Linked DNA regions of Homo sapiens. The protein of the gene in region 1 interacts with the protein of each later gene in a biochemical or structural test. Each region holds a gene or a part of one and is shown on either strand. Other genes may lie near its edges. The genes, in order: NFU1 and EPM2A.

Region 1 (11,372 bases):
CCGCCACTCTTAACTCCTTCTTAAAGTAAATAAATAATCTTTGCTGGCAGGGCTATGCTGAACCTCCTTGGGCACTCTCTAATTAGATGTACTGGGTCCTCCCAATTCTTAGTCCTTTAATACCTGTTTTTCTCCTTCTCTTATTCCTTTTAGTTTTTTAATTCATGCAAAACCATATCCAGGCCATCACCAATACTTCTATACAACAAATGTTTCTTCTAACAACCCCACAATATCACCCCTTACCACAAAATCTTCCTTCAGCTTAATCTCTCCCACTCTAGATTCCCACGCTGCCCCTAATCCCGCTTGAAGCAGCCCTGAGAAACATCACCCATTCTCTCTCCATACCACCCCCCAAAATTTTCACCGCCCCAACACTTTACCACTATTTTGTTTTATTTTTCTTATTAATATAAAAAGACAGGAATGTCAGACCTCTGAGCCCAAGCTAAGCCATCATATCCCCTGTGACCTGCACATACATCCAGATGGCCTGAAGTAACTGAAGAATCATAAAAGAAGTGAAAATGGCCTGTTCCTGCCTTAACTGATGACATTACCTTGTGAAATTCCTTCTCCTGGCTCATCCTGGATCAAAAGCTCCCACACTGAGCACCTTGTGACCCCTACCCCTGCCAGCTAGAAAACAACCCCCTTTGACTGTAATTTTCCTTTACCTACCCAAATCCTATAAAATGGCCCCACCCCTATCTCCCTTTGCTGACTCTCTTTTCAGACTCAGCCCATCTGCACCCAGGTGAAATAAACAGCCCTGTTGCTCACACAAAACCTGTTGGGTGGTCTCTTCACACGGATGCGAGTGAAACAGGTACACTATAGTTTTCTTCTGAAACGTAATTTTTCTTTTTCTAGTTTCCCATTTTTATCAAGGATAAATCATAGTAGGACCAATTTATTTACAAAATAAGTTTTAGTCTTATTGTACTTGGCCTGATTATTTGCATACAATGCTGTAAGCGTAGTGATTGACCATAGAGGCTCCTTTTAAATTGGCTTTGTGGGAACCATTTCATAAGGAATAGCAGATTTGACTTTTTAAAAGCCTCTTGAGGTTATCCAAGCCAAGGATTTATGTATGCCTGTAGATACCTGTATGAATTGGGGGTGAATTCCACTTTTCTTGAGGTTCCAAAGTAACTTGAGTTTCCTGGGCCTGTCAGAAAGTGACAATCTTTACTTATTACAGGTCAGGAACTTTGTAAAAGAATTGGATAGACATGGTACCAGGCCAGTCTTTCCAAAGGGCTTTTTATTGGCTCTATAAAGTCAATGTCAATTCCTCAAAGCAGTCGGAGTACATCTGAAAAAAATGCTATTCCAGTCAAAGCCTTGATAAAATAACCAGTGTCTCAAATTTTGTCCTGTTACAAAAGAAAACAGATTCTTACTGAATTTATGCAAATAACTATACTGCTATATATTAAGAATACTCACAAATAGGCCGGGTGTGGTGGCTCACACCTGTAATCCCAACACTTTGGGAGACTGAGGCAGGAGGACTGCTTGAGCTCAGGAGTTTGAGAGCAGCCTGGGCAACATAGTGAGACCCTGTCTCTGCAAAAAATAAACAAAATTAGCTGAGTGTGGTGTTGGGCACCTGTAGTCACAGTTACTTGCTTGGGAGGCTGAGGTGGAAGGATCAGTTTAGCCTGGGAAGTTGAGGCTGCAGTGAGCTGAGATTGCACCACTGCAATCCTGCCTGGGCAACAGAGTGAGACCTTGTCTCAAAAAAAAAAAAAAAAAAAAAAAAAAAAAAAGAATCTCACAAATAGTTTCCAAATTCTGGGGAAATTTAGAGAGAAAGAATATGCTTCAAATTTTGATCAGAAAGGTATATTTTACCCAACTTGTTGTAAGCTATAAATAGCTCAACAGAAAAAAGTTTTCTTGACTCTGTAAAAACAAAACAAAAATTATCAGCAATGTTTCAAACAAAAAACAGTCATTAAAAATTACTTCACACACATACAAAAATTACTTTAATATTCTATTGGTTTAGTCCCATTAATTAACTCTTGTTCTTTTTGATGTTGGGTTAGCAATCCTCATGAATACATCAGCTTTTTAATTAGAGTCCTGGAAAGCATTTTCATAGTCCAATGCTATGATCTCCAAAGTTATCGGAAACTTGTATTCAAGAGTATTTGTTAGAGTCCTTTCCATGAATTTCCTTAAAGAAGAAAATTTTGGACTGCAGCTGATTATAAACTACTTTTTGAGAAGAATCAAAATAAAACAACAATTGTCTGTGGATGACAAAACTCTTAGAACAGCCATGGTTAACCTAATGCTAGATGACGAGTTAGTGGGTGCAGCACACCAGCATGGCACATGTATACATATGTAACTAACCTGCACATTGTGCACATGTACCCTAAAACTTAAAGTATTAAAAAAAAAAAAAAAAGAACAGCCATGGTTAAAGACACAATTGACAAGGAAATTTGGTTATTTCTGTGGCACACAACGATGTAACATAATAATCATAATTATTACTGATGTCATATACTAAGACATACCAGAATTACAGGAATCTCACACAATTTTGAAACACACATTAATAACTCATTCATATAAATATAACCCAAAGAAAGTTAAACACCATTTCACATTTGACAATGCTTCCTCTCCCCCACATAGCGTTCTATTCCCTTAGTGCCTTTGTTGATTTACAAATCTTCTCCAGGAGCTCCCTGAGACCAGGAATTGTTTTGTTCATCTTAATATTACTCCACACAGGATTTTGATCATCTGTGAGTAACAGGAAACCTAATTAAACAGTACTGTAGGCAAATATTGACCTAAAAGAAAGAAGCTGAGGCAAAATTAATATAGAGAATTTATTTGGGCCAAGGTTGAGGACTGTAGCCCTGGCCATATTGCAGGTTGCCTTGGAGAGTGCTCTGGGAAAAAAGGAGAGGCTCAACTTTTTAAAGAAAAAGAGACAAATCAGGGGAGAGGAACAATTACAAAAGTTGCTCATCAGGTATTCTCATTTGACTTTTTTTTTTTCTTGAGACAGGGTCTCATGCTGTCACCCAGGCTGGAGTGCAGTGGTGCAATCACGGCTCATTGCAGCCTCAACTTCCCAGGCTCAGGTGATTCTCTCATCTCAGCCTCCCAAATAGCTGGCACTACAGGCATATGCCATGACATCTGGCTAATTTTTTGTGGAGACATGGTTTGTTTGTAGAGACTCCCAAGTGCTGGGATTAGAGGCGTGAGCCACAGCACCCGGCCCTGATACTTTTCTTTTTTAGGCTAGTCAATGGGCCTCATAATTTAAAGGGGCTCACCTTCCTCAGATAACATGTTTTTATTCTGCCAGGGTTAGTGGCTCATGCTTGTAAACCCTCCATGTTTCCCAGCATGGTCTCAAACTCCTGGGCTCAAGCAATTTGCCCACCTTGGCCTCCCAGAGTGTTGGGATTACAGGTGTGAGCCACCATGCTCAGCAGGTATTCTCATTGGTTTACAGAAATAACATTGTTAGTGACTGGCCATGCACTGTTGAACTATAGGGTATATGGCATGTTAACGGCTTCTTGACATTAGTCTAGTGTATACATAGCAAGTGACTTCAAGAAGTTGTTACTTAGCTCAAGGGCGAATGAGATATTACTGCTGCTACATTTTAAATGCCTCTCTGGGCCTGATACTTTTTCTAGTGCAGGCTTGTGGTGCAGGACTGGCAGGCAGCTCTGCTCATGGCCCTGGCATGGGATCCACTAGGCGAAGCCAGCTGGGCTCCTGAGTCAGGTGGGGACTTGGAGAACTTTTATGTCTAGCCAGAGGATTGTATATGTATCAATCAGCACTCTGTGTCTAGCTTGGGGTTTATGGATGCACCAATCAGCACTCTGTATCTAGCTAATCTGGTGGGAACTTGGAGAACTTTTATGTCTGGCTAAAGGATTGTAAATACACCAATCAGCACCCTGTGTCTAGCTCAAGGTTTGTAAATGCACCAATCAGTGCTCTGTGTCTAGCTAACCTAGTGGGGACTTGGAGAACTTTTACTCTAGCTAGAGGATTGTAAATACACCAATCAGCACTCTATGTCTAGCTCAGGGATTGTAAACGCACCAATCAGCACCCTGTCAAAACGGACCAATCAGCTCTCTGTAAAACAAACCAATCAGTACTCTGTAAAATGGACCAATCAGCTCTCTGTAAAATGGGCCAATCAGCAGGATGTGGGTGGGGTCAGATAAGGGAATAAAAGCAGGGTGCCTGAGGCAGCAGTGGCAACCTGCTTGGGTCCCCTTCCATGTTATGAAAGCTTTGTTCTTTTGCTCTTTGTAGTAAATCTTGATGTGGCTCACTCTTTGGGCCCGTGCTGTCTTTATGAACTGTAACACCCATCGCAAAGGTCTGCAGCTTCACTCCTGAAGTCAGTGAGACCACGAACCCACCAGAAGAAACAAACTCCGGACACATCTGACCATCTGAAGGAACAGACTCTGGACACACCATCTTTAAGAACTGTAACACTCACCACAAGGGTCCATGGCTTCATTCTTGAAGTTAGCGAGACCAAGAACCCACCAATTCCGGACACAGTAGCACAGAGGCTGTGGGTGGTTTGACTAGAGCAGGCCCTAAGAATGGTGGGACATAGAAGCCTCGTTTCAGGGGTTTGAGGAGTGGGAAGTGAAAAACTAGAGACTAAGAGTGCAGACCATTTTTTTAAGCCACTTGGTTCTGAAGGGAAGAAAAGAGTGTGGAAGAGGATTTGGGGCAAGGCAGGATTTTTCTTATGATAAGGAATCCATCAGAGAGGGAAAAATTGAAGTCTGAGAAGAACGATTGTTCCAAGGTGGAAGAGCCACATTTTATTTTTGATTGAGGGTCAAAAACAGAGCCTTGGACTGCCTTGCGGTCTAGAATGGGTGTGTGTGGGGGGGTGGGTGGGGGGTTGGATGGGGGAAGATCACTGGGTGGGGGGTTGGATGGGGGAAGATCACTAGTAGTTAAAAGCAAGTACGCAGCATTGGGAATGAACCAAACTCGTAGGAGGCACAGCCCACTCAGTGTGCGGGCCCGGGCGAGCTGCAGGCCTGAAACCCACCCACCCTCTTAGATGTGTCTGTGGGCCATAGAAATTACTAGGGTTGTCTTGGGTGTGGCCTCAACCTGTTCAACAACAGGTGTGCTGTTTCCATTCTGGAAACCAGTCCTCTGTCTTCCAGAACAGTGATTCTCAAATTTTAGCTGGCATCAGAATCCTGGGAAGGGTTTGTTAAAACACTACTAGGCAGGGTGAGGTAACCTAAGAGCTTTTGGAGGCCCAGGTGAGAGGGATCACTTGAGGCCAGCAGAGTTCAAGAGCAGCCCAGGCAACACAGGGAGACCTCTTCTCTACAAAAATACTACTACTACTACTGCTAATAAAAGCCAGGCACCGTGGCTCACACCTGTAATCCCAGTGCTTTGGGAGGCTGAGGCTGGAGGATGAATCACTTGAGCCCAGGAGTTGGTTTTGGTGAGCTATGATCGCACTCCTGCTCTCCAGCCTGGGCAACAGAGATAGACCCTGTCTCTGGAAAAAGAAAAAAAAAAAAAGCAAGTAACAAAGATTTCTAGTCCCCACCTACAGAGATTGTGCCTCAGTAAGTATAAAGTGGGGCCCAGGATTTCTAACATGTTCTAACGTGCATTTCTAACGTGTTCTCCTGCTTTTTTTTGGCCCCTAGTCCGCACTTTGAGAACCGTTGTCCTAGAGAAAACGGAATACTCCAGGAAGGTTCTGGAAGAATAGGTAATGGGCTTTGGCACTCTGCCCTGGAAACTAGTCAAGTCTCATGTTAATCGGAGAAGGGCAGCACTGTACCAGATACATCCTCTGTGCGGGTTGGTCCAAGATGACCAAGTGGCAGCTGACAAGCACAGCTATGAGGAAGGGTTAGACACAGTTCCACATCAGACCCATGGGAAAAGGGCAGGAGAAATGCGAGAACCTTTTAGAAGGAATGCTCCAGGGAGTCTTTGGGGGCAGTCACTGAGCTGGGCCTGGAGGCTGAGTAGGGTCCTAGAGGAGGGAATGGGTCAGGTTTAGGGGCTGGAAACAGCATTCGCAAGGCAGCACCAGCACCAGCTAAAAACCTAGCCAACAGGGAAAACAAAGTACGGAAACACGCATGCGTTCACAGTGCTGCGTGAATTAACCAAGCGTTGGCGCAAACGGGAAAGGTTCCCCGGCCTCTCTTGGTCAGGGTGACGCAGTAGCCTGCAAACCTCGGCGCGTAGGCCACCGCACTTATCCGCAGCAGGACCGCCCGCAGCCGGTAGGGTGGGCTCTTCCCAGTGCCCGCCCAGCTACCGGCCAGCCTGCGGCTGCGCAGATCTTTCGTGGTTCTGTCAGGGAGACCCTTAGGCACTCCGGACTAAGATGGCGGCGACGGCCAGGCGGGGCTGGGGAGCTGCGGCTGTTGCCGCCGGGCTGCGCAGGCGGTAGGTGACGAGCCTGGAGCTCCGAATAGGTGTGCCGCTGGGCTTAGCCAGCGGAGCGGTCGCCGCCTTGCAGACCCTCTCTCGAGGCGGGTGGGTAGTGCATCTGATGGAGCCGGCGGGTCCGCCCTGTCGCCGTAGTTGGGGGTGAGCCCTGAGGCTGTCTGTGCGGGAGCTCGGCGCTTCTGTGGCCTAATCCGGGCGGACTCTCTGGAGCTTCCTCTCAGGCTCAGAGACCCAGTTCTTGAGTCTCTGCGGTACGGAAGCTTGTAGAGACTGGCTGTAGAGCCAGAACGGAGGAGCTGTTTTAAAATCGTGTGCCTCTCCCGCCCCCAGGCCCTCTACCGGGTGCATTCCCTCCTCTTCTAAACGCAGAATCAGAATGTCACACAGAAGGGAAGAAAATACCTTGTCTCGTTTCCTCATTTTCCCAGTAAGGCCCTGAAAGAGGAGGTGACATGTCCAAGGTTACACAGTTTCTAAGTGATGGAATTCCGACGAGAACCAGGACCCCTAGATTCCCTGCACCCACCACCATTAAGCCCACTCTGTTCCCTTGTTTTTTCCGCCTCCCTGAGCCCTACCTTTGAGTTTCACCTTTCAAAGACTTCTGTGAACATTGCTAAGAGGACATTTATGTAGGTGTACCTTAATTTTACGTCTGGAGAAAATGGCCTACGGAGAGTTTGCCCTCTAGAGTATTAGACATTGTAGTGTTAATGGTGCTCTTGAAGTTTAAATGTATATCCTAAAAAGATTTAAGTTGGTAGAATTTTTTGTTAGTTACCTCCTGTGTTTGAGTAGATGTCTTCCTTGAATAATGTAATCCACTCTTACTTTAAAAAAACAAGACTTTAAACCTGTATGTTGGAATGTGCTTCCTCTTTATTCATTCTGCTGCCTTTTCCCTGGGCTGAAGGGACGAGAATATTATTCTTCTAGTGCATTTCCAAATTCCAGAGTATTCACAGATTTAGATACTGAGCTATAGAAAAAGGCATTTTTACCCCAAACCTTGAACTGCACTCAATTAGTAATTATTGGGCACCAATTAAATAATGGTAGCAGCTGCCATTTATTGAGCACTTACTGCATGGCCTGGCACTGGTTTAAGCACTTTACATGGATTCTCTGGATTATTTATGAGGTAGCTGTGAAACTAATCTCATTGTAGAGATGAAGAACTGAGGCCATTGTGCTAGCAGCTAGAAATGAAGATAGTTTCTCCCCTTAATGAGTATGCAGTCTAGCAAGAAAAATATATTAACAAATAATGACAGTCATGAGTGCTGTAATAGATTCATGTAATTTAAAGTGGTGTGCCGGGCGTGGTGGCTCACGCCTGTAATCCCAGCACTTTGAGAGGTCAAGCTGGGCGGATTGGCTGAGGTCAGGAGTTCGAGACCAGTCTGGCCAACATGGTGAAACTAAAAAAAAAAAAAAAAAAGCTGGGCGTGGTGGTGTGTGCCTGTAATCCCAGCGAGTTGGGAGGCTGAGGCAGGGGAATTGCTTGAACCAGGGAGGTGGAGGTTGCAGTGAGCCAAGATCACGCCACTGCACTTCAGCCTGGGTGACAGAGTGAGAAAAGCGAGATTATTTCCATCTCAAAATAAAGTGGTGACAGCTCTTACTGTGATCAACACTGGAGCTAGTGTGGGGAGTGGCAGTCAGGACTTCACAGATTATTTGATTCCCATTCAGTGTTGATTCCATTGTTCTCTTGAATCCTCGGTGCCAATCCTTTTATCTCTCCAATAGCATCTAAGAAACTCTATGGGTTACAGTCCCACAGTATCCCAGTAGTCTTTTGCTTATCAATGGCATATAAAGATTATTGAAGGTAGTAAACAGTTCATCTGTATTTTGTTAATACTTAATTGGTGCCCACTCTTTCTTTTCCACGAGAAGAATTCCAGTTTTGTGAGAGAGAGAAAAAAATGTGGCAGCCGCTGTTGCTTCTTGCCTATTTTAAGCAGAAGATAATTAGATAAATGTGATCTTGTGTATGATCACAAACAATTTTGGCCTTTGGAAAAAATTTTAACAGAAAATTATGACAGTGAAAGACCGTTCTAACTGACCATCATTTTGCCTTTAACCTCTAGACTGCCCATTCCCGGGCTTGGGCCAAGCTAACTTTGGGAGACATTTAGTTTATAGTTTAAATGATAATAGCCCTTTCCCAAAATTAAACCACCTTTATAAAGCTAATGAAAGACCACCAGGTTTGGAGGATGAGAGGAGCCTGAATTCTGCTAAGGTGTAGATGTAAATGATTACCAGCCATTATTCTGGCGGTCCTAAGAGTTGCAACTTCCCCAATTACTCCTGCAGAAAACATCTCTCTTGTAGAACCTAAGATTAGCCTTTTCAGGTTTTTGCATTTCTGACTGGTCCTGTGGCCCCGCCCACAAACGGGCTGAGCACTCAGGAGGATCATTTTCCGCACCCCTATGATTGCATCCCCAACCAGTCAGCAACACCCGTTCCCTGGCCTGCCAGTCTATCCTTGAAAACCCCTAGCCTCAGATCCAGAGAGACTGAGTACTAAAACTCCACTCTCCCTTTCAGCTGGCTCCATGTGAATTAAACTCTTTATTGCAAATCCCCTGTCTTGATGAATTAGCAGTATCTGGACAGTGGGCAAAGTGAACCCATTGGCAATTATAAATGACTCCTGTACTTAAAATTTTTCTATGGCTCCTATGAAGTGGCAGTGGTAATGGATAGCGATGATATTTTCAAGTAAACCGGATTTTAAAGTAAATTGCATTGGGATTTTAAGAATTTTTACTATTAAAGTCTCCTTTTACTTCCTTTTCCAGTAATATTTGCTTTCATTTTCTTCCTTTGTTTTCAGTTTGTCAAAGCCATAAAAAATAGCCAATTAAGTTTTCTCTGTAAGAGTGAAGTAAAGTTAGAGGCCTGGCGCTGTGGCTCACGCCTGTAATCCCAGCACTTTGGGAGGCCGAGGCTAGTGGATCATGAGGTCAGGAGTTCAAGACCAGCCTGGCCAAGATGGTGAAACCCTGTCTCTACTAAAAATACAAAAATTAGCCGGGCATGGTGGTGGGCATCTATAATCCCAGCTACTTGGGAGGCTGAGGCGGAGAATTGCTTGAACCCAGGAGGCGGAGGTTGCAGTGAGCCAAGATCGCACCACTGCACTCCATCCTGGGCGACAGAGCAAGACTCCGTCTCACAAAAAAAAAAAGAAAAAAAAAAGTGAAGTGAAGTTACAACACTGGGTTAATATGTTTCCATCCAAAAAGCATATAAAAGGCAGGGCATGGTGGCTCACGCCTATAATCCCAGCACTTTGGGAGGCCAAAGTGGGAGGATTACTTGAGCCAGGAGCTGGAGATCAGCCTGAGCAACATAGTGGTAATCCATCTCTACCAGAAGTAAAAAAAAAAAAAAAAACTAGCTGGGCATGGTGGCATACAGCTGTAGTGTCACCTACTTGGGAGGCTGAGGTGGGAGAATCACTTGAGCCTAGGATGTTGAGGCTGCAGTGAGCCCTGATCACACCATTGTACTCCAGCATGGGTGACAGAACAAGACCCTGTCTCAAAACAAAACACGAAAAGCGTGATCAAGATCGTTGGCTGTGTAATCCCAGCATTTTGGGAGGCCAAGGCAGGTGGATCACTTTAGGTCAGGAGTTGGAGATCAGCCTGGCCAACGTGGTGAAACCCTGTCTCTACTAAAAATATAAAAATTAGCCGGGTGTGATGGTGTACACCTGTAATCCCAGCTACTAGGGAGGCTGAGGCAAGAGAATCACTTGAACCCAGGAGGTGGAGGTTGCAGTAAGCTGGGATCGCATCACTGCACTCCAGCGTGGGCGACAAAGTGAGACTCAGTCTCAAAAAAAAAAGACGGGCCAGGTGTGGTGTCTCATGCCTGTAATCTCAGCACTTTGGGAGGCCGATACGGGAGGATCACCTGAGGTCAAGAGTTCGAGACCATCCTGGCCAACATGGTGAAACCCTGTCTCTACTAAAAAGTACAAAAATTAGCCAGGCATGGTGGCGGGCACCTGTAATCTCAGCTACTCGGGAGGCTGAGGCAGCAGAATTGCTGGCACCTGGGAGATGGAGGTTGCAGTGAGCCGAGATTGTGCCATTGCACTCCAGCCTGGGCCAACAACAGTGAGACTCCATCTCAAAAACAAAAAGGACAGTCGTATACTTTTTTTTTTTTTTTTTTTGGAGATGGAGTCTTGCTCTTTGGGCCAGGCTGGAGTGCAGTGGCACGATCTCGGCTCACTGCAACCTACGCCTCCTGGGTTCAAGCGATTCCTCTGCCTCAGCCTCCCGAGTAGCTGGGATTACAGGCGCCCACCACCACTCCCAGCTATTTTTTGTATTTTTAGTAGAGATGGAGTTGCACCATGTTGGGCAGGCTCGTCTCGAACTCCTGACCTCAGGTGATCCACCTGCCTTGGCCTCCCAAAGTGCTGGCATTACAGGCGTGAGCCACCACCCCTGGCCCAATAGTATACTTTCTTTTAGATTTTTTGAAGTATTGAAATACTTTTCAAAACAGGTAATATAGGTTATCTTGAGAGAGGGAAACGTAAGGGACAGGAAAGGAGGGAGGCTTTCACTATTTATGCTTTTTTCCCTTACCAGTTTTGAACCATGTGACTCTATTGCCTAATTCTAAATTTTTTAAAAAAATAAAAAAGCTTATAGTTATTTGCTTCCTTCCTGTATAACCAAGAGTCTGGGACTATGGGTTATAAATTACTAATGTAGATACAATTCTGTTTCTTTTTTTTTTTGAGGTAGAGTTTCACTCTTGTTGCCCAGGCTGGAGTGCAATGGCATGATGTTGGCTCACTGCAACCTCTGCCTCCTGGGTTCAAGCAATTCTCCTGCCTCAGCCTCCTG
Region 2 (10,805 bases), on another chromosome or scaffold:
TTTCTAAAAATTTGAAGTTGTTTTATGGTACAGGATATGTTCTATCTTGGTTTATGTACTGTTGAACATGTGCATTCTGCTATATTGGGTGCTGTATAAATGTCAACTAGATAATGTTGGTTGATGGTGTTCTTGAGGTTTCTAATATCCTTGCTGATTTTCTGTCTAATTGTTCTAACAATTGTTTTGGGTGAGGTGTTGAGGTCTTAAACTATAATTCTGGAGTTTTAAAATTCTTTCAGTTCTCTCAGTTTTTTGCTTTACGTATTTAACCACCTTACTGTTTGATATATACACAGTTAAAGTTGCTGTGTCTTCTTGTTAGATTGATACTTTAAACATTGTATAATTTCCCCTCTCTAGTAATTTTCTTTTCTCTGAAGTATACTTTATATAATAGTAATATAACTACTCCTGCTTTTTGATTAATGTTTGCATAGTATATCTTTTTCTATGCTTTTACTTCCCACCTGTGTATATAATTTGAAGTGAATTGCTTCTAGACAGCATATAATTGATTCACTTAAAAATTATTCTGCCAACTTTTGTATTTTCATTGGTGTATTTAGACTATTTAACATAATTATTGGTATGTTAGAGCCTAAGTTTGCCATTTTATTTTTTGTTTCTGGTTGTTTTCTCTTCCTCCTTTTTCTCTGATTGTGTGGCATGTCTGGTTCATAATTGAACATTTTTTTAGAATTCTGTTTTGATTTACACATAGAATTTCTATATACATTATGTATATTATATACCTAACATCATAGTTGACTGGTATCAACCTTTTACGAGTTTGAGTGAATTTTAGAAAACTTACCTCCTTTTTCATTCGTTTGTCCTTCCTCATTTGCAATATAATTGCCTTAAATATTTCCTTTACATACATGTAGAATAGCATCAGACAATGTTAGAATGTTTGCTTATTTACTTATAATTTTGTTTACTGTGCTCATTCTTCCTGTTTTCAAAGAGTTTCTTTTTGTTTAGACATCTTCTGTTAGTCATTTTTAAGATAATTCAGCGGCAAAATTTTCTTAGTTTTCCTTCATAAGCATGTTTTGATTTTCCCTTTTTTTCCTGAAGGAAATAGTCACAAAGTAAGATTCTTGGTTGACAGTTGTTCTTTTTTACAGCACTTGAAAAATGACACTTCCTTTGGTGACTTCTGATGAGAAATCTGCTCATATTAGAATATTTTTTCCTTTACATTGCTGTTTTTCTCTGGCTACTTTTATGATTTTCTCTGTTGTTAGTTTTCAGAAGTTTAAATATGTCATGTCTCGGTATTGATTTCTTTGGGTTTATGTTGTTTGGACTTTGCTCACCTGCTTGAATTTGTAGGTTTTGCCTCTTGCCAAATTTGAAAAGTTTTCCGGCATTATTTTCTTAAGTACTTTTAAGCCCTACTATCTTTTCCCTCTTCTTCCAAGACTCCAATGACATAAATTTAGATCTTCTGTTAATAGTACCACAAGTCCCTAAGTGTCTGTTTTTTTTTTTTTTAATTCAGCCTACTTTTCTGTTGTTTGCTGTTTAGATTGGGTAATTTCCATGATTCTATCTTGAAGTCTGTGAATTCTTTCCTCTGTCCCTTCCATATTGCTCTTAAACCCATCTATTGAGTTTTGAAAATTTCAAATATTGTGTTTTTCAGTTCTAAAATTAATATTTAGTTCCTCTTTTCATCTTCCATTCCATTGCTGAGACATTCCGATTCTTCATTTGTTTGAAATGTGTTCTAATGGGTTACTGAGGCCTTAAAATCTTTATCACATAATTATCACATAATTCTAACATCATTGTTCTCTTGGTGTTGGCCTTTATCCGGCATCTTTTTTTTTTTCCATTTAGTTTGAGATCTTAGTGGTTATTGGTATAATGGGTAACATTCTATTGAAACCTAGACATTTTGGGTATTATGTAATGAGGTTAGCTCTTTTTTTTTTTTTTTTTTTTTTCTTTTGAGACGGAGTCTCGCTCTGTCGCCCAGGCCGGACTGCGGACTGCAGTGGCGCAATCTCGGCTCACTGCAAGCTCCGCTTCCCGGGTTCACGCCATTCTCCTGCCTCAGCCTCCCGAGTAGCTGGGACTACAGGCGCCCGCCACCGCACCCGGCTAATTTTTTGTATTTTTAGTAGAGACGGGGTTTCACCTTGTTAGCCAGGATGGTCTCGATCTCCTGACCTCATGATCCACCCGCCTCGGCCTCCCAAAGTGCTGGGATTACAGGCGTGAGCCACCGTGCCCGGCCTGAGGTTAGCTCTTATGCAAACCTTTGATTTTAACTGAATTCTTCTGACACCACTCCAGCAGAAGAATGGAGGTCCCACCTTATTACCCAGGTTCCTCACACTGTTTCCATTCATAACCAAACCAAACAGACTCCTCCCTGAGTGGGGTGGTAGTTCTAACTCTCCATTAGGCCTCCATTGATAGCTCCCTGGCTGAGACAGGGAGGAATGCCTTGTTACTGCTTCCTACATGGCATCCACTGATGGTCGGGTGGGAAGGAGGTGGAAATCTTGACTTTCCACTAGGTCACCTTTGTCACGATCTCAGTGGAAAGAAGGGGCACCTCGTTACTGCCAAATGGAGGTGGAAGTCCACCTTTCCACTTGGACTCCACTATATTGCCAACGATGATGCTGAAAGTTTCAGACCCCTACTCATCCTTCTCTGACACCATGATAGTGAGTGGGTTGAGGCACTGCAATACAGCTTGGCAAACAAAAGTGGAAGTGTACCCATGCTTGGCCTTTGCTGGCCTGAGTGGGTGTGGGGCCACATTTTTTCAGTGGGTTTGACTGGAGTAGTGTAGTTATTATCAAACAGATTTCTGTCTGGCTAGGCTTGTCTTTTCATTTGGCTAGAGAGAATGGACTTTTGTCATGTTTTCTTTTTCTGTCCTTGTGTTACCAGGTTGCTGGCTTCTTCAGATCTAAGTCTGGGATATATAAGGCAAAAAGAAAATGCAGGGAACTCAATACTTAGGTCTTTTCTTAGGTCTCAGTGTCCCTGGATAGTCTGTCTTCTTCTCTTTGTCTTTCAAAGTTATCTTATGTTTGTTTATTTATAATTTTCAGGGTTTTAAATTATACTTAGTGGGAGGACTAGGGAAAAGTACATTTATTCCATAGTTCTCCATGCAGAAATCTCCAAAACCAAAATTATTTTACTATTCATTTTTGCCATTTCATTAGGTGAAATTAAAAAGACAATAACCCATCCTCTAAAAGACATTTTAATTATTAGAACATATTTTGAATAACTCAGTTTACTATCCATGAAAGACTTTTAAAAATGTTGCCTAAAACATAAATGTGTAAAAATGAGTAATTAAAGAAATCACTCTAGGAATGAAGAATTCTTATGAAGATGATGACACATAAATAATTCTTCTTGACCATTGTAATTTATGAATATTTGATCTCTTCAACAATTATATTTTTAATAGGTAATAATTCAATTGTTGTAAGTCAATTATACTGACCAATGGGAGCCACAGATATTGTTTTATTTAACTAAAAAAGTAACACCCGCTCCTTGTAACTAATCCAATCAATTCAAAACAGTTGACTATGACAGTTCCCCTCCATCCAATTCCATTTCCTAGAAGTAACCATATCCAGTTTGTAGTCTATGTTTACACTTTCAGTCATGCTCTGCTGCTTCACTTAGTCACTCCTACTTTTCCTTTTCAGCTCCTCTATTCATCTTTTGTAAGTTTATCCTTCTCTCGCTGGCTGTTAAACATTGAAAAACTTTCAGACTTTGTTCTAGAACTTTTTTCCTTATTAATATTGTTTTTCTTTGTGACTCATCTATGTTCCTATTTCAATTACCATTTACACTCAAATTACTCATATATTTATTTTTTTAGTTCAGATTTCTGGTCTTAATGTCAAATGAGTAACTCCAGCTCTCTTTTGAGGACTCCTTTTGGATATCTAAAGAGCACTCCAAACCCAACATTGCCAGAACTAGATAGATGATCTTTCCTTACAGCCTCTTTCAGATTTTGCATCTCAGTGAATAGTGCCACTGTATATTGAATTATTTTCACTAGAAGCTTAAGAGGCATTGTTAATCCCCTTTCATCTTCACCTTCCTTTTCCAATTAATCACCAAGTCCTGTGGCCTTTCCCTCTTGAATCTGCATAATCCTTTCAAAGTCTGTGACCAAGCTTCATCATAAACTACCTAGGCCAATATAGTAGTTTCTTAAATGGACTCTCTGCTTCTATCTGATTGTTCTTGAATTATTTTTTTACTCTGTAGCCAGAGAGGTATCCTTAAAATAAAATCTGGTTATGTTACATGCCTGCTTAGAATATTTCAAATTTTTAGTTGCTCTTATGATAAATATCTGAGTTCTTAACATGACCTAGCACAGTACCTGTCTCAATAAATATCTGTAGAAGAATGAAAAAAAACTTATATGGTTTACAGTATTTTCTATTAAAATAGTATTACTGTACGCATGTATCTCTGTGTGCATCAGAAATTCTTTTTTCTTAGTAATATTTCTGTTGGATATGTTTCTAGAAGTGAGGTTGCTAGTGTAGTTTGGTTTTTATCTATTAAAAATGAAGGTTAATAGAGATGTGGTGCAGCACCTTGTAGTCGTCGAGAAAAAAAATCCATTAAGAGAAAAAAGAGGAGACTGATCTAGGAAGATCAGTAATGGTTTATTAAGAGAGTCATCCTGTACCTTCTGTCTGATGGAAGGAGTTATATCTCAAAGAAACATCAAATAATTTAAGGATTTTTTGAGAGCTTACGCCAAGCAAATTTAGGTTAAATATTTTGTAAGACAGAACAAAGAGAAAAGAACAAATGAATCACATTTTTGTATTCATAACAAATGTGATTTATTTCTGTAAACCACTCATGCATTTAGTTTGCTTACATGTCTTTCTTACAGTACATTATACTTAGGTAGTATAAAGAGAGGCATGATTTGAAATGGGATGATAAAAAGGTAGTAAAAATAATGTATGAATTATAATTTTTGTAGAAATCAAGGTTTACTAGTATGTAAGACCATTTGAGCTGCTATAAACAAAACACCATATATTGGTTAGCTTATGAACAATAGAAATTTATTGCTTACAATTCTGGAGGCTGGGGGGTCTAAGATTGAGGCATACCAGATTCAGTGATTGGTGAGGGCTCACTTACTGGTTCATAGATGGCGACGACTTGCTGTGTTCTCACATGGTGGAACAGAGCAAGGGGTTTCTTTCACCCCTCTTTTATAAGGGAGCTAATCACATTTGTGAGGGTTCTTCTTCATGACCTAATCATCTCCTAAAGGCCCCAGCTTCTAATACCAACACCTTGGGTGTTAGGATTTCAACATATAAATTTTGGGGGGACAAAAACATTCATACCATAGCAACTAGTGTAGTTGATACTGGGCAATCGTGAAATAGGCAAATAATATTTTTAGAGATGTGTGTCTGCTTCCTTTGATCCATGGCCCTGGAAGGAAGATGGTGTGTCTTTGTGCATGTGACATCAGCAGGGAGCATCACAAAGGCATCAGACGCCAGAAAGGTGGGGGACTAGGAGAGGCAGGTGCTACTAGCTCCGCACTACTAGTTTTGTGACCTTGGGCAAGCTAGTTAATCTCTGTGAGACTTGTTTTCCTCATTTGAAAACAATAATAATAACTGTTTTACCTGTAAAGTAGATTTGATGTGGTCATTTATTACTTATTAATGCATTTATTTATAATTATGCATTTTTTTGTTGAGCTGATACTACAACACTTTATTCCTGATTTTATTCGTAAATTTGCATACCAGAAAGATAGAAGTGTATAATACAGGGGCATTAATAGCTTTAAAAACTTTTTTTAGGAGCTTCTCAGGCTGCAAAGTGATTCATAATGGCCTCTTAGAGCACTGAGAGGTACCATGAAGCTCTGAAAGAGTTAACATGCTTTTTATAACCCATGTACTCAAAGGGAGTAAAAAACTCTGATTTTCCTAAGTAGCTCTTTACAAATTCCTACCGTTCTGTTTTTCACTCTAGTCTTTTTTGTTTATACTGAAATGTGTAGATTAAGTAGCTTTATGTTTATTTTTTTCTTGCTATTAATTTTGTATCAGCTGCTTTGAGGATATTTAAACAAAACACTGATTTAATTGCTCTGTTTATCATTTTTTCTTGTTCTAGGCAATGGACCTCATCATGACCGTTGCTGTACTTACAATGAAAACAACTTGGTGGATGGTGTGTATTGTCTCCCAATAGGACACTGGATTGAGGCCACTGGGCACACCAATGAAATGAAGCACACAACAGACTTCTATTTTAATATTGCAGGCCACCAAGCCATGCATTATTCAAGGTAAAAATAGTGCTATATTTATAGGCATAGAAGTAGGACAAGAGATAGCATTAGCACAATGGAAATATTTACTGTGTTCGAAACTGCAGTGCCTCACTTGGGAGGGGTCTATAGGCCTGTAGTACTTTGAGGAGAAAATTACAGTGAATCAGTGTGTGAGATTTTCTGGGTCTAGATGTGGAGGATTTTAAAAATAGAATTCTTTAATAAATGCATACCCTAGCATCAATATGTTTTGACCAGATAGTAGCTAACCAATCTGTGTACTTATGTAGTGGATTAAAAATAAGAACTACACTAAAATAGACTAAATTAATATTTGTGTCCTTTATGCTACTGACTACCAGTGAAACAAAAATTGGTATTTCCTTATACAATCTTATCCAAATAAATATGTGTGAAAATACAGGCACAGAACTAGATTGAATGTGATTATCTGCTTTATTATTTGTTAATATTTTGATTTATTTGTTCATTTAATTCCTAAACCAGGAGGTTGCTAAATAAAACATAAGGCTTATTATCCTTTTCTCCTTTCCCACTCATCAGAAGTGATTATTTTTAATCACTTTATGGTTAGTTTTTCTTGAGATTAAATCTAAACCTTAAACAATATGCATATGTGTTGCTTGTTAATGTACCAGTTTAAAAATAGCTATTGATTCCCCTCTATTACACATAAGAAATTGACATCTCTCATACTTGTCCTCTCTCCCCACTCCAGTCCCTACCAGGCATTTTTTGAGAAGTTCCATTGTTACTTACCATCATACAAATTCTATGTCTTGACCCATCAATTTTTCACAGTGTCTCCTAGTTTCCTACATTGTAAGAGTAGAGATTTTTTTTGTTCCTGTATTTTTTTCCACATCTATTTCCACCTACTAACTCCTGCTTTTAAATTACTTTTATAATTTCAAGGCTTATAGAATTTACATTAAACTTAGTAAATATAAATGTCTTTCACACTTCGATTATTTAAAATTTGAAAGCAATTGCCAACATTTAAAATATTATGTAAGTGTTATTTATTGTAGAACTTACAGTGTTTGTACCATACACAAGGAGATGCATTCTCATATTCTTAAAGAATGTGTTATTTTGAATGAGAGATACAATTAATATAAACCGAGTTGTGAGAGGTAAAAGAGAGAGAAAATGCAATTTCACAATAGTTTTAGGGAATTAATAGTCCTCTTGAACACATTTTTCTTTCAAACTTCTGGTAGATGTTGGCTTTGCTGATGGGTTGTATGCACAGAATGAGGAAGACAAGAGTTAAGCATGTCTCGTGGTTTTATGGCCTGAGCTACTGTAATGGTGTTGCCACTTACTGAGATGGGGAAGACTAGGAGATGAGCAATTTGAAGTAGGGATTGAGGTACAAGTTCTACTTTAGTCATTTTTTGAAATGTCTGTTAGATTACAGGAAGGAAATTGATTTGATGTCAGAAATTTTATGGAGAGCTTGGAAATAAAGATATAAAATTGGCAGTTATCAAGACATAGATAGCATTCAAAATGTTGAGTCTAGATGAGACAATAGTAAATGAGTGAAGTATAGAAGAGACAAAGAGAAGAAGCAAAAATATTGAGCCCTGGTTCACACAATTTAGAAGTCAAGGAGAAGCAGAAGATCCAGAGAAAGGAATGAGAAGCAACACTTCTTGAGATGGTCTGACATTTAATGAGGATATGTTTATGGGTTCTTTTAAATGATCCTGAACCACATTTCCTGAATGAACCCTTTTTTCTGAAGAGTCATATCTTGGGCTCTGGAGATTTTTTTCCACTGAATGATTATTTCTTCTCCTTGATTGCCTTTGCTCTTTGTCATTAGAGACACTCCTTAGATGGATGTTGGACCTCTTGGATTTACATTTTATATTTGTCATCTTTTTTATTGCTTTACATTTTGAGAGGCTTCTTTTTTTCCAATTCAACTATCGATTATTTTTTTCTTAATTTTGGTAATTGTATTCTTAATTTTCATGGACTTTTACTTATTCTGTTATTCACTTTTTGCATATTAGTTTGTTCTTGTTTATGAATGAGTATATTCATGAATCTTTCTTAGAATACTAATGAGAGTTATTTTTAAGTTCTCTTCTCTTACTGGAACTATACTTTTTCCTCCTGAATCAATTGTTTTTCATTCATTTTGATCTTTCTTTTTTGTGTTATTATTGTTTTAGGTAACATGATTATTAGTTGTTCATATTTACTATGTGAAAGATTAGGTTGATTGTTGTATATGGCTGTCATAATTTTCCTCTGCTATTACTGGCCTCTGTACCTGTGAGAGGTGTTGGGGGCAAGCTGTGCTCAGGTGGGCAGATCCTATCTTTCTCAGCAGACTCTGATCAGACAACCCACCTGCATACTTCCTCCGCCCCACCCTGAATGAAAAGACAGGCAGGGTCTGTTGTGGGGTACACCTCTCACTCTGAGAAAATTTGCTCTCTGAGTTGATGTTTTAATTTTTAAATAGAGTATTTCTTCAGCTTCACTTACAGTATCAAAGCTGTATGTGCAGGTGAGAGTGAACCTTAGTTCATATACTCAACTGTGCAAGAAAGCGTACGTTTCTTTATTTTCTTTAAAGCAACATAGTTTTACATCCAAGTCTCTATCCTACTGAATTCTCAGGTAATTCAACCTGTTATCCACTGCAAGGTGTAAATATATCTATGCTTATAAATAGTAATATATTAAAATGTATGTATACTATATAATACTTTATATATTAAAATAATAAATAATATATGTGTATGTATACCTGGAGTATAATATATAATCTAATATATACACACTCACACACACACACACACACACACACACACACACACACACCAAATCCTGGGAATCTTTATTTTTCAACATCTCCATGTGATTTTTACATGTGTGAAAGGACAGTAGTTTAGAATAGAAAAGGAATATTTTAATGCACCTTCAGTTGTTTCAGTCCAACTCCCCTTAAAAATTCCAGCATAATTCACCTTCACATGAAACTGGGTAAGATGAAAATCTGAATTCAGTTTAAAAGAAAAGAGTCAGAAAGGCATTTTATATTTCATTATTAAATTGAAAACATCGAATTCTATCTGTTTGCTATGTTCATCTGACAATGTATAATGCTAAGATTATTTGTGAATTTATCTTAGCTGCTGAAATAGATACAGACAGGTAGATTATATGTTTGAGCATTTATACAATGGAGGTATTCAAACTCAACTAAGAATTTGTAATTACAGACTCTCACTCTTTAGTTTGAATATAGGAATGGAATTATGCCTAGAATTTTTTTATGGTTGGGATAAATCATATCAGAATGGAATTGCCAATATCCTTTATAAGGATGAGGCTTTTTAGAACATATATATCTAAAAATTAAATGTTATATAATAAGATAAATGGTAACTTCATTTATTCAGTAAGAATTGTGTGGATTACTCTGTGCAGCCCATCTTGAGTGCTGGACCATCAATAATGGAGAGACATGATCCTTGCTCTCATGGAACTTATGCTGTAGTGGAAGACAACATGTAAACAGCTGCAATACAGTTAAATATTTGCTGTAATGAAGTTATATATGTAGTGTAAAAAGGGACAGGAAAAATCTTTAATTCAAGGAAATCTTTATGAGGACGTAGAACTTGAACAGAAATGTGAAGCCATCTTTTTCTCAGGACATTTGGGAAAGGGAATTCAAGGTAAGAAGAATAGCGATATGGTTTGGCTGTGTCCCGACCCAAATCTCGTCTTGCATTGTAGCTTCCACAATTCTCATGTGTTGTAGGAGAGACTAGTGGGAGGTAATTGAATCATGGGGGCGAGTCTTTCCCATACTGTTCTCGTGATAGTGAATAAGTCTCATGAGATCTGATGGTTTTATAAGGAGGAGTTTCCCTGCACATGCTCTCTCTTTGTCTGCTGCCATCCATGTAAGACGTGACTTGCTCTTCCTTGCCTTCAACCGTGATTGTGAGGCCTCCCGAGCCACGTGGAACTGTGAGTCCATTAAACCTCCTTCCTGTAAACGTTACCCAGTCTTGGGTATGTCTTTATTAGCAGAGTGAAAACGGACTAATGCAAATAGCAAGTGTACATATAGAGAGGTGTGAGAGAGCAATATTAGGGTAGCCACCTAATTTTCTCCAACCAGGATGCTTTGAGAGTAAAAAGAGGTACTTTACATAATTAGCCTGAACATGGGGTATGAAAATAGGACTTTACTGGGAATGCTAGGACATATGGCAACCTAGAGAACATGTCATGTAAAAGAGAACATTCTGGTACTTCTCAATATTCAGATGCATATATAAGCTGACAAGCACCTGTCTCCATAGAGAGACTACAGTTATCCTTTGATAGATCAATGGAACAGAACAGAGCCCTCAGAAATAACGCCGCATATCTACAACTATCTGATCTTTAACAAACCTGA

What was found.
Region 2: the proteins of NFU1 (region 1) and EPM2A form a complex in vitro, tested with the Homo sapiens proteins (one study listed by BioGRID).

What each region holds. Positions count from the first base shown.
Region 1 is NC_000002.12:69,432,466-69,443,837, reverse strand, and holds the start of NFU1 (NFU1 iron-sulfur cluster scaffold homolog, mitochondrial), read left to right. Parts: upstream 1-6,402; 5' UTR 6,403-6,415; coding exon 6,416-6,477; exon of another isoform or gene 6,478-6,567; intron 6,568-11,372. UniProt on the Homo sapiens protein: Iron-sulfur cluster scaffold protein which can assemble [4Fe-4S] clusters and deliver them to target proteins.
Region 2 is NC_000006.12:145,681,675-145,692,479, reverse strand, and holds part of EPM2A (laforin), read left to right. Parts: intron 1-5,602; exon of another isoform or gene 5,603-5,636; intron 5,637-6,183; coding exon 6,184-6,358; intron 6,359-9,820; exon of another isoform or gene 9,821-10,071; intron 10,072-10,805. UniProt on the Homo sapiens protein: Plays an important role in preventing glycogen hyperphosphorylation and the formation of insoluble aggregates, via its activity as glycogen phosphatase, and by promoting the ubiquitination of proteins involved in glycogen metabolism via its interaction with the E3 ubiquitin ligase NHLRC1/malin.